4 linked regions of the Homo sapiens genome follow. The protein of the gene in region 1 purifies or fractionates together with the protein of each later gene. This does not show direct contact. Each region holds a gene or a part of one and is shown on either strand. Other genes may lie near its edges.

Region 1 (4,152 bases):
AGATCATGCAAGGAATTGGTGAGTTAAGATTGGGATGGGGGTGCCGAGGGAGAATTCCAGGGAGAAGTCCAGACGCTGTAGCTTTGCAATGCTGCCTACATCCCCACCCTCCACTCTGTGACTGCTGCTAATGCCTTGGTTCAGGACCTAGAGATTCTGGATTTATCCATAACCTCTAACTGTCTCTCCCTCAGCTCTCATCCAGCCTCCACGTGGCCATCCAATTAATCTTCCTAAAGGGCAGATTTTCTCATGCATACACACCCTGCAATGGCTCCCCATGGCCTTGTTAAACTGATACGAGTCCTTGTGCTGACCTTCAAGGCCTGCACAGTCTAGCACCCGTCTTCCTTGCTGCTCGTGTGCCACCTCTTGCACAGGGCTCTGCTTAGCACGTATTATTTCCCAACAGATAATCTTTCTGAGAATGCCTGGGCATTTGTGCATGCTATTCCCACAGCCTTGGAACCTCTTACCCTCATCTCTGCCAGTTCAAATCCTGGCTCCATCACTTACTAAGTAACCTTGAGCAAATGACTCAATGTTTTCTCATCTATGAAATGGAGACAACAACACCTATTCCCAAGGCTTGTAGTGAGCATTGAATGAGGTGATGCAAATAAAGTGCTCAGCCCAGTGTTGGCACAAAGTAGGTACATATTATCTAACATCATCGCAGTCATCATTATCATCATCAGCAGCATTGATTTCTGAAGATCTCTCTCAAACAGCACTCCCTCCATGCAATTTCACGGATCTCCTTGGCAAGATGTGAGGGCATCTTCCCCTTTGGAGACCTGTGGCACTTTCTGGGGGCAGTATTGCCTGCCTCCAGTACATGCTCTCTTTGTCTGTTTGTCTTTCTTTGTCTTGCCCTTCCTGGTTACTCTGAGCTCCTCTCAGGACAGGACCAGTATCTTGTTTCATTTCTCCTGTCCCCAGAATTGGCTACATGTCCTGGTACATGGTAGATCCTGAGGACGTGTGTGCCGGGTTGAATTTAACGTGTCAACGAGTGCATGAGGGTGTGTGCGTTGAAAGTATGACCCCGTGTGTGCAACTCTGGACTTAGACATCGTGTGAGTGCGTGCGTGTGTGCAGGGTGTGTGTGTGTGTATGTTTTGCCATATGCCTGCGGGAGTGCTGAGGTCCAGCAGGTTGCCGGCAGTTGAGGATTTGGGCCAGGCCGCCAGGAGGCGCTCCTTAGCGATTCTGCGGGAAGCCTTGGTCTATCCCTGCGCGGGAAGGGGGGTGAGGGTGGGGGTGGGTGGGAGTGGGGGTGGGTGGGGGATGCTGCGCTGGGGGAGGGGAGGCCGGGGGCGGCGAGGGATGCCGTCGTAGCACCAGGTTTCCGTACCTTCAGTGCGCCGGGGACCCAGGGCGCGCCTTCAGCTTCCTTCCCCTCTCCGACTCCCTCCGAGCCCGTCCCAGCCCAAGCACCGACTCAGGCTCGACCATCTGAGCCCCTAGAGGTTTTCGGGACTGGGCCCCGCCATCTGACAGGCTGACTCGGGTAACCTGCAGTGGTTGTCCTTATGGCCGTTTTTCTGTTTTTATGATTCAAGTCTGGGCTATATTCACCGCAACTCAATTCAACACTCATTTGCTTCTGGCAGGGGACTACGCCAAAGGCAGTGGCAGAGACAGGGGATGTCACTCCACCCCCTCCCCCCGCCCCGTCCCCACCCCGTGGCCCGGGATGGGAGACGCATGGGGGAGGGGAGGGGCAGCGGAGGATGGGAGGAGGTAGGGAGCCGACTCCGGCTGAAAAGCGGAAGTGGCCGGGGGTTCCCGTTTCCCGGCCAGAAGAGAGGACAGGAACCCCGGCGCCCCTCTCCCGGACCCCCGCGGAGACCCACACCCCCAGCAGCTCTGTCCTGGATCTCCCGGTGGGCCACGGAGAGCGCCCCTTCCCCCAACACACATAGCTCCAACCCCAAGACCCGGCCCGGTTTCAAACTTTGCTGGGGAAGGGGGCAGATTGAGGCCGACGAGAACGAGAGCACAGAAGGGGTCGTTCCCGAAGACTCCAGGCGGCGGGCGTGCGCTGTCCAAGCGGCGGCTCCTCCCGGAAAGGGACAAATAGTCCCCTTGGTCCCCCATCCCCTGTCAATGTCTACGTTCTCCTCCCCTCCACCTGCGGTCTGTCCGCCCCCCTGCCGCCGCCCTCTGACTCACTCCGGGAGTGCGCACTGTACCCCTGGGGGCGACTCCCTCCTCCGGGGCGAAGCGTGCTCCGGCGGGCTTCGGGTTAAGCACAGCCAGAAGTAGCTTAGATCGACGTCCCCCACTCCCGCGAGCTCAAAGTTGTTCTCTGGGTTCAGACTTGAGTCTCCGCCGCAGCCGGGGCGGTCCTGGCTCCGGGACCCCGGCCGTTCGGGCTCTGCCCGGAGTCTCCGGCTAGGGCCCACGCTTCCTCTTAGTTCGCAGCTAGCTGCCTGCTCGCGGCCCCTCGCAAGGAGCTGTCCTTTCAGCACCACGGAGAGCGCACCCGGGAGTGTCCCCTTTACCGCCTCTCAGTCCCCATCCGGTGCCCAGGCAGCCTTGGGGAGCTGTCCCCCCGAAAGCCGTGCTCCCCAGCTTCCCGAGCTGCCCCAAGGCCTCGAGGCGAGAGCCGGGACCCTGTTGCCCACAGCCCAGCTCCGCCCTCCCGGCCCTCGGCCAGCACCGACCTGGCGGTCCCTGCAACCGTCTGAGCCACTGCAGGGCTCCGGCCCGACTCCACGAGGTGGTTCCTTCTGCTATTCCAGCTCCCGCCGCCGCGTGCAATTCCGCCAGGCGAGCTGGAGCCGCGGCTTCTGCCGCGGGCGGCTGCCGAAGGCGCCCTCCAATCACGCCCCTCAGCCGGGCCCTGACGTTCTACCGCTCCCCTTCCAGATGGGAAATTCAAATCTCTCTCTCTCTCTCTCTCTCTCTCTCTCTCTCTCTCTCTCTCTCTCTCTCTGTCTCTCTCTCTCTCTCTCTCTCCTCTCTCTCTTTCTCTCCCTCCCTCCCCCCTCGTCCCCTCCTTCTCTCCCTCTCTCCCTCCCTCCCGTCTCCTTCTCCCTCCATTCCTCCCCCTCTTTTCTCGCTCCCCTCCCCTCTCTCCTCCACCTTACACTGTTCTCCTCCCCCTCGCAGACGCCCCTGCCGCCTCCCTGCAACCAGACATCCTGGCCACAGCTCCAGGCCCACAAGCTTGCTGCTCCTGAGGAGTGGTGGGGGCAAGGGGTGGAGGAAGGGTTCTTTAAAGCAAAGCTCAAAGTTCACCTCCTTGGGAAAGCCCTCCTTGGTTTCTCCAGGCAGAGTGGTTGCACTTCTTGCGGCTCCTGCCACTCCCAGACAAGCCCTTGCCTCAGCGACCCCCGTTCCACCTGTTGGTTTGCCTCTTGCCTGTGAGCAGCTCCAGGACTGGACCTTGGCCAGGTCATCTTTGCAGCCCCCCAGCACAGTGTCCAGCCACAGGAGCACTCAGGAAACACTGATGGAGCGTGTGGGCAAGACCCTCGCAGTGGGTCAGGAACCTCCACTGCGCACCCAGAAAGAGAAGACTGATGCAAAACTGCAGTGGACCTTAGGCAAGCCACTCGCCAATCCCTTTGAGATCTGATATCCTGTGAAGAATAAGGACTCCTCTGGCAAAATTTATTCTAGAAGGCCATTTCTTTTCCTCCTATGCCCAAGAAAGTAAAAGGACTTCCAAGAGGCAGGACAACATCTGCTCCCACCCCCAGCCTTTCCTCTTCCCCTTGCACTCATTTTTGTTTTGTTTTGTTTTGTTTTATTACTCTCACCTAATGAGCCTTTTTATTCTGCCTGCCATCTTTCGGCTCCCAATTACTCCAGCCCGATGTGTAGGAAAATGGCTTCGGAGAGGAGGGGCCTTGCACAAGGCCTGTGAAAGATCTGCAGGAGTTTCACATCCATCAAGGTATGTCAGAGTGGAGATGGCTTCTCCTTCTAAGGGGATGGCTTCCTTCCAAGGAAGGGGCAACAAGAGCTGCAGAAATGTGATTTTGTTCCAGTGAGGGAGAACTTATCCCTTCACACACGATCACAGCAGAGGCCTTAAAGCAGGAGACCCCCCCACCAGTCAGAGGCCATTGGTGAACCCATCCTCGTCACCTGGAGAATCACCTTCTGAAGTCTATGTCTGTTCTCCCCTTACAGGCT
Region 2 (3,881 bases), on another chromosome or scaffold:
TAATTATTGATCCTTAAATTAATATTCTTCATTTAAGAAATAAGATTCAGATGTTTCAGTTTATATCCTTCACCATGGTGGTACTGGGAGTGATAGAATCCTATTTATGACACCACAATTAACTTTTTTAGAGGTCATGTCATAAACAGATCATCTTTCATTTTAAAAAGCTATACTAAGCCAGGCATGGTGGTTTACGCCTATAATCCCAGCACTCTGGGAGGCCAAGGCAGGCAGATTGCTTGAGGTTGGGAGTTCAAGACCAGTCTAGCCAACATGGTGAAACCCCATCTCTACAAAATATACAAAACTTGGCCGGGTATGGTGGTGCACTCCGGTAGTCCCAGCTACTCAGGAGTGTGAGGCAGGAGAATCACTTGAACCCAGGAGGTGGAGGTTGCAATGAGCCGAGATCACATCACTGTGATGAGATGGAGTGAGACTCCATCTCCAAATAAATAAATAAATAAATAAATAAATAAGCCATACTAGTTAACTTTTTGGGGGGGCAAACTTTAGGAAGTGTCTTTAATTTTTTTAATTAATTTATTTTAGATTCAGAGGGTACATGTGTATGTTTGTTACACTGGTATACTGTGTAATGGTGGGGACTGGACTTATACACACATGACCCAAATATTGAACCTTGAACCCAAGAGGTACTTTTTCAATCCTCAGTCTTCTCCCAAACTCTTCCATTTTGGAATGGTCTGTGTCTACTACTTTCGTCTTTATGTCCATGGGTACCTATGTTTAGCTCTCACTTATAAGTGAGAACATGAGATACTTGATTTTCTGTTTCTGAATTAGTTCTCTTAGGATAATGGCCTCCTGCTCCATCCATGTTGCTGCAAAGGACATGATTTCATTCTTTTTATGGCTGCCTAGTAAATTCTTAAATATAAATCTAACTTTCCATGTTAACTGGTTGTTTTAAATTTAAAAATTTTAAAAACTTCTGTGAGGTTTTCCAATATACTTTTCCTTCTGCAAGTAGTTACTGGCAGTGTGTATTTTAAAACATTTTTGCCTTAAATTTAAAAAATATATTTTATTATATAATACATGAATACATATAGTTTTAATATATAAAATAACAAAATCTGTCCGGGCCCAGTGGCTCACGCCTGTAATCCCAGCACTTTGGGAGGCCAAGGCGGGTGGATCACCTGAAGTCAGGAGTTCAAGGCCAGCCTGGTCAACATGGCGAAACCCCATCTCTACTAAAAACACAAAAATTAGCCAGGCTTGGTGGCAGATGCCTGTAATCCCAGCTACTCTGGAGACTGAGGCAGGAGAATTGCTTGAACCAGGAGGCGGAGGTTGCAGTGAGCCGAGATGGTGCCACTGCACTCCAGCCTGGATGACAAGAGCAAAACTCCGTCTTAAAACACAAAACACAAAAACAAAATAAAATCCTGCATTTCAGTAGAGGAGTAAGAACATCTAATAATACCTTTAACTTACAGTGTTTCCTCTACAATGTCCAAGGATGATGTGTTCCTGAAAACTCCGTGTTAGAATTTTGCTTAAAATCTCAATGACTTCCATTGCACACAGATGTAAAGTCCTCAGAATGGACTGTAAGGCCCCCTCCACCCCCCACCCCCAACACACACGCATGACTGATTTTAATCATACTGACCTCCTTGCTATTGCTGCTACACATTTCCACCTCAGTGTCTCGGTACTAGCCAGCATGCTCTTCCTCTGCTTGACAACATAACTCCCTCCCTCATTTCCTTCAGATTTGTCCAGATGCCATTTCTCAATGAGGTCTTCCCTAATCACTTATTTAAAACTGCAACCCTCTTCCCTTTATTTTTTCCTATTGTTCTATTATCAACTGACATATGGCTTATTTATATTATTTGTCACCTATAATCTCACTATTGAAATGTAAGCTGTGGCCAGGTGTGGTGGCTCATGCCTGTAATCCCAGCACTTTGGGAGGCCGAGGTGAGTGGATTGCCTGAGGTCAGGAGTTCGAGACCAGCCTGGCCAACATGGTGAAACCCCATCTCTACTGAAAATACAAAAATTAGCCAGGCGCGGTGGCAGATGCCTGTAATCCCAGGTACTCAGAAGGCTGAGGCATGAGAATCGCTTGAACCCAGGAGGTGGAGGTTACAGTGAGCCCAGATCGTGCCACTGCACTCCAGCCTGGGTGAAAGAGCAAAACTCCATCTCAACAACAACAACAACAACAAAAAAAAAAAAAAAAAAAAGAAAAGAAATTTAACCTGCACAAGGGCAGGGATTTTTGCCTCTTTTGCTTTCTCCTGTGAGCTCACTGCTTTATCTATCCTCAGCCTTATACAGTAAATCCTTAATAAAAATGAACATTATGAATGAATGAAATGATGTATTTAAGGCCTTAGGGAAAAAGCGAGACCAGAGAACTAAAGTCATGAAAGGCACTGCAAATATCTTTAAAAGCCACTAAAATAAATCAATGAAGATAATATGATGAATCAAAAGAAAAACAATAACTTGGGTAATTTGTACTGTACATTAAATATATTTATTTGTCATTACTTATAATTCTTCTTCAGAATTTCCCTGCCATGCATTTCCAACAAGATACTTAAAAATTAACCTCACCTTGTTCTAATATGTACACTAAAGTGAAAAATACCTTTTGTATGTTAATAGCTAAGCCTAAATCTCAGGTTGGAGTAATCTACAATTCAAGTACACTCTCAAGATTCTCTTGCCTAACTAAAACGATTTATAGAAATAAATCTGTATATGCTAGAATTTCACAAAGGAAGAATCTCTACTTAGATGGGGCTTTTAGAAAGGTAAGAGATTACCACACAGTACTTTCTTACAGTTGAACATCTATTATCTCATTTCACTCTTACAACAATTTTATGATATAAGCAGGATAGGGAATAGAACAGCCGTTCCCTGCCAAAAAAAAGCAAAATGACTTCCCATAGTCCTTTGGCTAGAGTATGAATGAAGCTTTAAATTATAGGGTTGAATACACCTGCTGGAAACTGCAAGGACAAATTTTGCTGCTATGCTATAATAGAAGAAATCACATTTTAATCATATTTAAAGATGTATATTCCTCTTTGTGGAGGAGTAATTGCAACGTTCAGAAAGAAATGATAACTATCACTGCAATCAGACCAGTACATACAAGGACTGATCCTGGCTCGAGTCACAGGGTCTTCTAACTGGGGTCTGACTAGGATTTGGATAGTAAGCAATAGAAACAGGCTGAAGTTTTGGGTGCCCTAAGTAAGGCAATCACAGGGCCAAGTATCACACTTACTTGCTGCAGTGTGAAGTACTGGAAAGAGCATAGATTTTGGAGTCTGACAGACTTAGATTCAAATCCTAGCTCTGTTACATACTGGCTGTGTTACTTTGGGCAAGTTACTTAATCTCTCTGAGCCTCACTTTCCTCACTTGCAAAATGAAGATACCATTACCAAGGTAGTTACCCTGAAGGGCTGTTGTGAGGATTAAATGAGACAATACATATAAAGCTGTCTTCAAAAACCTAGCATATTAACTATTAACTTCCTTTCTTTTTTTAATGATACCAACTATCTCTCTCTGTATTATATGGAGTGTAAGTAAGCTGGAAATTTTCTGAACAATCTTACAGAAGTGTCTGTCCCATCATTCAGGAACCACTCCTGGAATCTTTAAAATTTAGTGGCAATTACAACTGCCAGATTATTATTCAACAGAAGCTGCAGTGTCCAAAAACCCACCTTTCTCTACATAAACAATTATAAATATTCCTGCCAGATTTGCCTGATCTGAGATTATATAAACAGAGTCTAATGATTAGCTATGTCAAATCCTATTACAACATAATCCCTACAAAAAAGTTCTTTTTTTTTTTGAGACAGAGTTTT
Region 3 (3,881 bases), on another chromosome or scaffold:
GAATTATTGGGGCAAGTGGCACATCTGCACTGGGACCGAGTATTAGAAGCATGTGGACGTGAAGCGCCCCACAGCGGACCCTGCCCGGGGGGGACTGGGAGGACGGCAGCGCACCCTGCCCGGGGGGGCGGACTAGGAGGACGGCAGCGCGCCCTGCCCGGGGGGGGGACTGGGAGGACGGCAGCGCACCCTGCCCGGTGGGGGCGGACTGGGAGGACGGCAGCGCACCCTGCCCGGGGGGGACTGAGGAAGACGGCTGTGCTCTCAGGTGTCTGTGGGCGAGTTTAGGGCTCCAGTGCCATGATGTTTATAAGAAACTCTCAGATGCCTCAGTTGGAGGGGGGCAATGTAGCAAAATGGTCACAATTTTGGTATTTTTGGCAAATGGTTGTAATTTCGGGGAGAAGGTGTTGTTCATTCTGATCTATGCAGTTTCCTGTGGTGTTGAAGATTTTCTAAATAAAAAGGTGGGGGCTGGGCACGGTGGCTCACGCCTGTAATCCCAGCACTTTGGGAGGCCGAGGCGGGTGGATCACCTGAGGTCAGGAGTTCGAGACCAGCCTGACCAACATGGTGAAACCCTGTCTCTGCTAAAAATACAAAAAATTAGCCGCGCGTGGTGGCGTGTGCCTGTGGTCCCAGCTACTCGGGAGGCTGAGGCAGGAGAATCACTTGAACCTGGAAGGTGGAGGTTGCTGTGAGCTCAGATCGCACCACTGCACTCCAGCCTGGGCAACAGAGTGAGACTCCGTCTTGAAAAAAAATAAAAAATAAAAAGTTGGGGAGAGAAGAGGACTTCTTCCTCTTGCCCTCAGCCACGTGCGTGGCAGGAGCTGGGGCGGGTGGAGGCTAAGCACGTGTAGCAGGTTCAGGAGGGAACCAGGTGGAGCGTGGAGCTGGCACTGGACACGTCCATCTTTCACTGGACCATTGTCAGATGTGGCCGCCCGCCCCAGACCTGCATGCTCCACTGTTCCTCACACTCAGGGCCAGCAAGTCCAAGTTCCAGCCTCTAAGGGAGATGCCAGCACCTTTCTAAAAAGTACACGTGGGTGCTTCACACCAGAGAGCCACACTCGGAAGATGACCCTGGAAGCAAAAGCTGGAACCCAGGGTGAAGGCCGTGCCCCAACAGCGAGGACAAGCTGTCCGGAGAAGCTTCTCCGGGGTCACGACTGCTCTTGCCTCTGATGGGCACCAGCAGACCTCAGGTGTGCACCTTGAGCCTAAGCCCCAGGCCCAGCGGTCAGCATATTTGTGATGCACCGACACCGGGCTGGCTCTGAGCAAGGCTGGAGGTGCTGGAAGACGCCACGACCTGGGCTCACAGAGCTCATGATCGGCCGGGCTGGACCTTCTGGTTCTCTGCTCTAGCCCCTCCTCCACCCAGTGCAGGCTGGTCCTGTCTAGCTGGATGCATTGGCCTCTCCAGCCCTGTGGACGGACCTGGCTGATTGACCTTTGGCTGGTCGCCCCCCAGAAGACTCGGTGTGCGGGGGGTAATCTGCTTCTCCATAGACCCACCCATGGCCTCGGGGTGGGAGGACACTGTCCAACAGGAGGGGGGTTGCAGTGTACTTGTCCCTGGCAGCATCTGCCCTTGCGACTGTCCCGGTCTCCTCACAGACTTCCTGGGGACATGCCCCAGAAGGCCCCACGCCATTGACACACTTAGAGTGAAGATAGCCCTCCACCAACAGACAGAGCAGGAAAGCCACAGGGTTACTGGAACTGCAGTTAGCGCCAGGACACCAGACAGGAGCAACCTCAGCCTGTCCTGCCAGCCAGGAGGTCCCGCCCACGCCCCAGGGCCCGGATCCTGCTTGCTAAGGGAGTCCGGCTGGCCCTGCCACCTGCCCTCTCGAGGCCCGCATGCCCGGGGCCAGCACTGAGGTTGCGTCCTGCCTGCAGGAGGCACCAGTTGAGCAGGTAACCTGCGGAGAGGGAGGGGATGGGGCGGGAAGCCCACCACCAGGGCTGCGGGAGCGGCAAGGCCACACTGACGCACCACGCGGGCTGGAGAGAAGCCAGGTTAGTGTCCCGGAGGGGTGTGGGCAGCAAGCTCCAGCCCCACTGCCCTGCAGCTGCTGTTAGCCCCCACGGAGCGCCGGCTGCGTACATACCTTACTGGATCACACACAGTTTCTTTGTTTTATTATCATCAGAATCAGGGGGAACCTCTGCTTCCAAATAAAAGAAACGCACTCAACGGCTTATCACACAGAAGCAACCCTGACTCGGAGTGGGTGGGGCTGGGGGGCCCGGGACAGCCATGCCAACACCCTCTGAGGGCTGCCCGGTTCTCTGGCCACTAAGCCACATGGCAGCCACTTGCCTGGGACCTGGTGCCCGGTGTCCGCCCCCTACTCCCTAACGGAGGTGGCGTGAAGGTCGGAATTAGTAGGTTGGAGGAATAGTTGCACGGGCCGCGGCAGCCCACATAGCCGCCCTGCGGTGGACGCACTGCCGCCTCCTCTCCCGTGCCGCACCCAAGTCACCTCTCCTGGGTGCCGCTGGAACTTGCAGTGCCCAATGGGGAAGGGGAGGGACCGGCTGGGTGCCAGCGCCCTGGCGTGGGACGGTGCCCGGGGCCCCTCCCTGAGTTACCTTCCTGGCTCCTGGAGGGACGCTTCTTCCTTCGCTTCCCGGTCCCCTTTGAGGCCCGGCCCCGGGCCCTGGGGAGTGTGCCCGACCCCGAGGAGTCGGTCACCGCATCCTCGGAGAAGGACTTGTCCAGGGATGTGTCCAGTGCGGACTCTGGGGCCGTGTCCTCCTCGTCCTCGTCCTCATCCCCACCTGGGCCTGCTGCAGGGGGTCTGGCACCACGGCTGTGGACAGCGTCCTCCAGCCCCTCACTTGTGCTGTCGGCCTCGGCCTGGAGGACGCCCAGCAAGGACGTGGGATCCTTGGCATCTTGCCTTGAACTTCCGGCTGCAGGGGGCTGGTTGCTGGAGAACTTGAGGGGCTTCAGGGCCTGAGCATCTCCCAGAGTCACCGGCCAGGCCCCCTCCAAGGGCTGGGGGCACTGGGGATCCTCAGTGGTTAGGACATCGCTGGCATCCACATACCAGGAAGAACGCCTCTCCAGGGGCCGTGGACCACCCTCCTCCAACTGCTCCAGGGTGGGCTGAGGGCCGGGGGTCACGGCGTCTACAAGGTCCCAGCCCCGGGACTCGCTGGCTGTTGTAGCATCAAGGCCGGGCTCAGAGGCGGGACAGCGCGTGCTGCCCACGGGATCTCCTGCAGGGTTACTGGTGGCCACTGGATGGAGGGACACACCAGTGAAGGGCAGGCACCCTGCCCCCGAGCCAGCCCAGGTGCAGCCTCCTCCATTCCGCTGTCTACCTGAACGCCCTGCAAAACCTCCTCCCCAGAAAGCCTCCTCTGATGTCTCAGAGCAGGACCCGGCCTCAGCGTCCTTGGTCTGTCTACACTGTGGCAGGGTGGGGGACACTGGGCCATGCCATTCCCAGCACCCTGAGGCAGCCACCCCAGGAATGGGGTCCTCCCACCAGGGCCTTGCCGCCTGCCTTTCCTGCCACCTCTAGCACCCTCTGAGCCCAAGGGCATCGGTCAGTGGGCCTGGCCTCATCTCTCTGGAGCCCAGCGGGCTGGACTGCTGCTTCAGCACTGAGGGCAGGGCCTGCGGTTACAGTGGAGGAGCTGGAGTGAGTGGAGGGAGGGATGAGGGCTGAGCGGCCACCACCTGTCCCCTCGGCTGTCCCCAGTCTTAGGGGCCTCCAGGGTGGCCCAGGGAGAGGAGAGGGCTTTCCAGTGAAGTCAGGAGGACTTCCTGGAGGCACAGGGTAGGGACAGTGGCAAGGGGACCATGAGGAGGCAGTGGGAGAGGGTCTTACCAGGCTCTGTGGCTCTTGGGGGAT
Region 4 (3,881 bases), on another chromosome or scaffold:
CGTTTCAGGAAAAAAAAAAAAAAAGAAGTTCAGATCTTTTTCACTATGCACATTAGTTTATCCTAACACTTTTCTCAATTCTTCTAAATGTACTGAATGTTGAGATATGTCTTATGGTTAAAATTAATATAGTATAATTCACTAATCTGTACTCAAATTTCTTCTTGAAACTGAAAAGTGGCTGAAACGTGGCTAAATGATGTACCTTCGGAGTTATGTGCAGTTTTCTTGTGTTTTCGGCAATAGACCCTATAAAAAATGAAGAAATCAAAAATTAGTAAGCAAACTAAATTAAACTCACTTTTCAAATTAAGAAAACGAGCAGTACACTTCACCCAATTCACTAGCTGGATTCAAAATATATTATTAAACTTCCTGTACTATTTCTCTAAGTATTAAATTTCTTATCAAAAACACCCTTTATGATGATGATGAAATGCTTTGAAATGGGAAAAATTTTTACAAAAGCCCAAAGAAAGTATTATTGTTAAAAAAAAAACTTAAAGAGAAGTTAAATAATTACATGTAAATTCCTTGTGAAGGTTTCTCTCGTATTTGAGCTTTATCATGCAATGCACAGTGGTAGTGGTATGTCCTGTGACATGTTTTCACATCACAACCAATTGTTGCTCCAGGACAATGGCACAAAGAACACATCTACAGCAAAACGACAAAATAATATTATTAGTATGTGACTTTCTAAGGCTGTATATCAGATTAGAGGCATATCAATTTCTGTCAAGGAAAACAAATTGGTTATTGAAAAGTTTTGTAATTAATGCTACTTTTCTTGTTTTCTCTCCTTAGAATAACCGGAATAAAATTCTTCTGGGGTATTTTTTCCCATGTTAAACACTGACAAAATTAACAGAATGTTATTAATGTCTATTGTTTCATTATGGTCAAGAGAAAATTTGAAATACTGTAATTCAGGAATGTGAGCTGTATATAACATTATAAAAGAGACTTTTTATGTAATCCAGATCTTCCTAGGTACAAGTAACTGGAGAAAATGTCTCATACCAGAAAAAAAAAGTTTTCCTTAAAATTTCCACTTAATTGCTAAGTGCGGTGGCTCATGCCTGTAATCCCAGCACTTTGGGAGGCAGAGGCAGGCAGATCACAAGGTCAGGAGTTTGAGACCAGCCTGGCCAATATGGTGAAACCCCATCTCTACTAAAAATACAAAAAAATTAGCTGGGGTGTGGTGGCGCATGCCTCTAATCCCAGCTACTTGGGAGGCTGAAGCATAACTGCTTGAACCCAGGAGGTGGGGGCTGCAGTGAGCCAAGATCGTGCCACTGCACTCCAGCCTGGGCAACAGAGCGAGACTCCGTCTAAAAAAAAAAAAAAAAATCCACTTAATTAATGAGACTCTGTGGGAAAAATATCTCACATAACTTACTATTTGAGAACCTAGTAAAATCCATTTAAAGCGAGGGAAGGAGACAAGGTGAAAGAATTAGGTAGTTTTTTTAATACCTTGAGCTCTGAGACTATTTTGTGATGTCAAGTTGATTATATTATGAAAATATGCACAGTATTTCAATTTAATCTATGTCACTTACCTCTTGCACTATGAATTCAGGCAAACAGATAAAAGAACAGATTCTTTCAATGTATTTTATTATACCTTACCTTTTGAATTTAATGGATAATTCATATTGATTAACTAGCTCATGCTCTACATTTAGGAAAAAAGTTATCTTTAAAAAGTTACATAACAATGACTTTCAGTGGTTTTGATTAACATATCATAATGTACTGTACCAAGTGAACTTTTATAATGAGGCCATTTAACTGTACATGACATGCCAAAATAGATTCACAACAAGCTAAATCTAAAAAACTGTTCATTTGCTTCTTGGTTGCTGGACACCTTGTTCTAAAGTGTTCTCATCCCTCTTTTTATTAATTTGAACATAAAGAACACTTAGCATTCCTAACTTTTGGATTACTCGGCCTCTAAGCAATATTGGTGTACCAAGAGGCTAATATAAATTCCAATAAAATTTCTTACATTTCTCTAAGCAAGTCAAACACTAAAACTCTCATTCAGGCTATCATTTAAAAAATATTCATATGTCAGAAACAGAAACAGTCTCACTACAGCTGTTTCCCAGAAAACATGAGGGCCAGTGCCCATTATTGATACAAGAAATACCCCTTTCTTCCTTAAATAAATACAGAAACTTCAAAGTATTACTGTAAAAAGAAATACTATGCCAAATTATCAAGAAGGCAAAGCTTTTGGATGGCTTATAAATTCTTAAGGAGGTACAGCATTTGAACTGTAGCTTAATTACAAAGTTCTATTATATTAAAGAAATTCTGGAAAACAAAAAAGCACAAAGAAAAATTTTAAATCACTCATACTCACCAAGCAGAGATGCCTCACAGTGTTACAATGCTTAGTGAAACGTAATTCTACACATACTATTTTGCAATCTATTTTTTTAACGCATCAAACATTATCCCACTTCACTAAGAACTTTAGGGAAAGTAGTTTATCTTGAAACTTACATCCAAAACAGGTTTAGATGGGTACATTTTGAAAAAAATATATTAAATTCAATTAGCGAGCAAAACTGAAAAGAGAGGTGCCATTTAAAATACTATATTGAGCTCAACATTGACAAGATACAGTTAAGATGGGCACTGTTGTATACAGCTGGAAATTGGTACATACTCTCTAGAATGCAATTTGCCTTATTCAACAAGGTTTTTAAAAAATTTGTATTCTCTAAGCCAGTAATTTTACTCTATAAACCTAGTCTAAAAAATAATCACACTCAAGCAATTAATGCACAAGCACATTCATTGTAGAATTATTTAGAACAGTCTAAAATGTAAAACCACCTATCAACAATTGAAAAATATTTAGGTCCGGGTACAGCAGCTCACGCCTGTAATCCCAGCACTTTGGGAGGCTGAGACGGGCGCATCACCTGAGGTCAGGAGTTCAAGACCAGCCTGACCAACATGGAGAAACACCATCTCAACTAAAAATACAAAACTAGCCAGGTGTGGTGGCACATGCCTGTAATCCCAGCTACTCGGGAGGCTGAGGCAGGAGAATCACTTGAACCTGGGAGGTAAAGGTTGCGGTGAGCTGAGATTGTACCATTGCACTCCAGCCTGGGCAAAAAGAGTGAAACTCCATCACAAAAAAAAAAAAAAGAAAAAAAAAAGAAAAAAAGAAAAAGAAAAATGTTTAAATAAATTATAGTATACACATATGAGAGAATGTTCTACAGCCACTCTTTTCAAAGAAATTGGAATGGCTCAGGAAGATCTATGTGTAATGTTAAGTTAAAAAAAATGAGGCAGGATACAAAACTATGTGAATTATGAACCCAACTATGTTTATAACATAGATTCTTTAAAACAGGTGCAAGTAAAAACAGCAAAATGCTAAGTGGCTATCTCTGGGTGGCTGGTTTTCTTCATAATGCCCTGTATTTTGATTTTTCTACAATGGGCAAAAGTACTTTTATATGCAAAAATATTATTTAAAAAACAAATTAGGAAAACTCTAGTAAATGCTTTCAATACCCGTCTCTCAGTCTGGTGAGAATAAGATGGGAACCAAAAACCCAAAATATACCAAAATAGTTTTTGGCTGGTTATAAATTTAAATCTGCCCAAAGTAACTGGTTTTAAGCTGCTATGGTGAAATACATGCATTTTGCAAATAACCAGTTAACTACAGCAACTCAGGACAGATAATTTTTTTAAAGCTTACTTTATTTTTATAGTCAGTTTCACTCAAGAAAGACAAGAAAGAGGAAGACATACCAATAAAAAATATTTTCGGAGTGGAAACTTCTTTACAAGGTTAGGAGTTGGAATTTTGCTAAATTAGAATTCCCAGGACCTAT

What was found.
Region 2: the proteins of CPLX2 (region 1) and SRP54 purify together in Homo sapiens (affinity purification with mass spectrometry; one large-scale study listed by BioGRID and IntAct). This does not show direct contact.
Region 3: the proteins of CPLX2 (region 1) and INF2 purify together in Homo sapiens (affinity purification with mass spectrometry; one large-scale study listed by BioGRID and IntAct). This does not show direct contact.
Region 4: the proteins of CPLX2 (region 1) and PHF6 purify together in Homo sapiens (affinity purification with mass spectrometry; one large-scale study listed by BioGRID and IntAct). This does not show direct contact.

The regions. Positions count from the first base shown.
Region 1 is NC_000005.10:175,870,226-175,874,377, reverse strand, and holds the start of CPLX2 (complexin-2), read right to left. Parts: upstream 2,801-4,152; 5' UTR 2,673-2,800; exon of another isoform or gene 2,179-2,672; intron 1,612-2,178; exon of another isoform or gene 1,358-1,611; intron 1-1,357. UniProt on the Homo sapiens protein: Negatively regulates the formation of synaptic vesicle clustering at active zone to the presynaptic membrane in postmitotic neurons.
Region 2 is NC_000014.9:34,989,457-34,993,337, reverse strand, and holds part of SRP54 (signal recognition particle subunit SRP54), read right to left. Parts: intron 95-3,881; exon of another isoform or gene 1-94. UniProt on the Homo sapiens protein: Component of the signal recognition particle (SRP) complex, a ribonucleoprotein complex that mediates the cotranslational targeting of secretory and membrane proteins to the endoplasmic reticulum (ER).
Region 3 is NC_000014.9:104,713,583-104,717,463, reverse strand, and holds part of INF2 (inverted formin-2), read right to left. Parts: coding exon 3,858-3,881; intron 3,262-3,857; coding exon 2,608-3,261; intron 2,181-2,607; coding exon 2,125-2,180; 3' UTR 2,124-2,124; intron 1-2,123.
Region 4 is NC_000023.11:134,390,277-134,394,157, reverse strand, and holds part of PHF6 (PHD finger protein 6), read right to left. Parts: intron 658-3,881; coding exon 524-657; intron 250-523; coding exon 206-249; intron 1-205.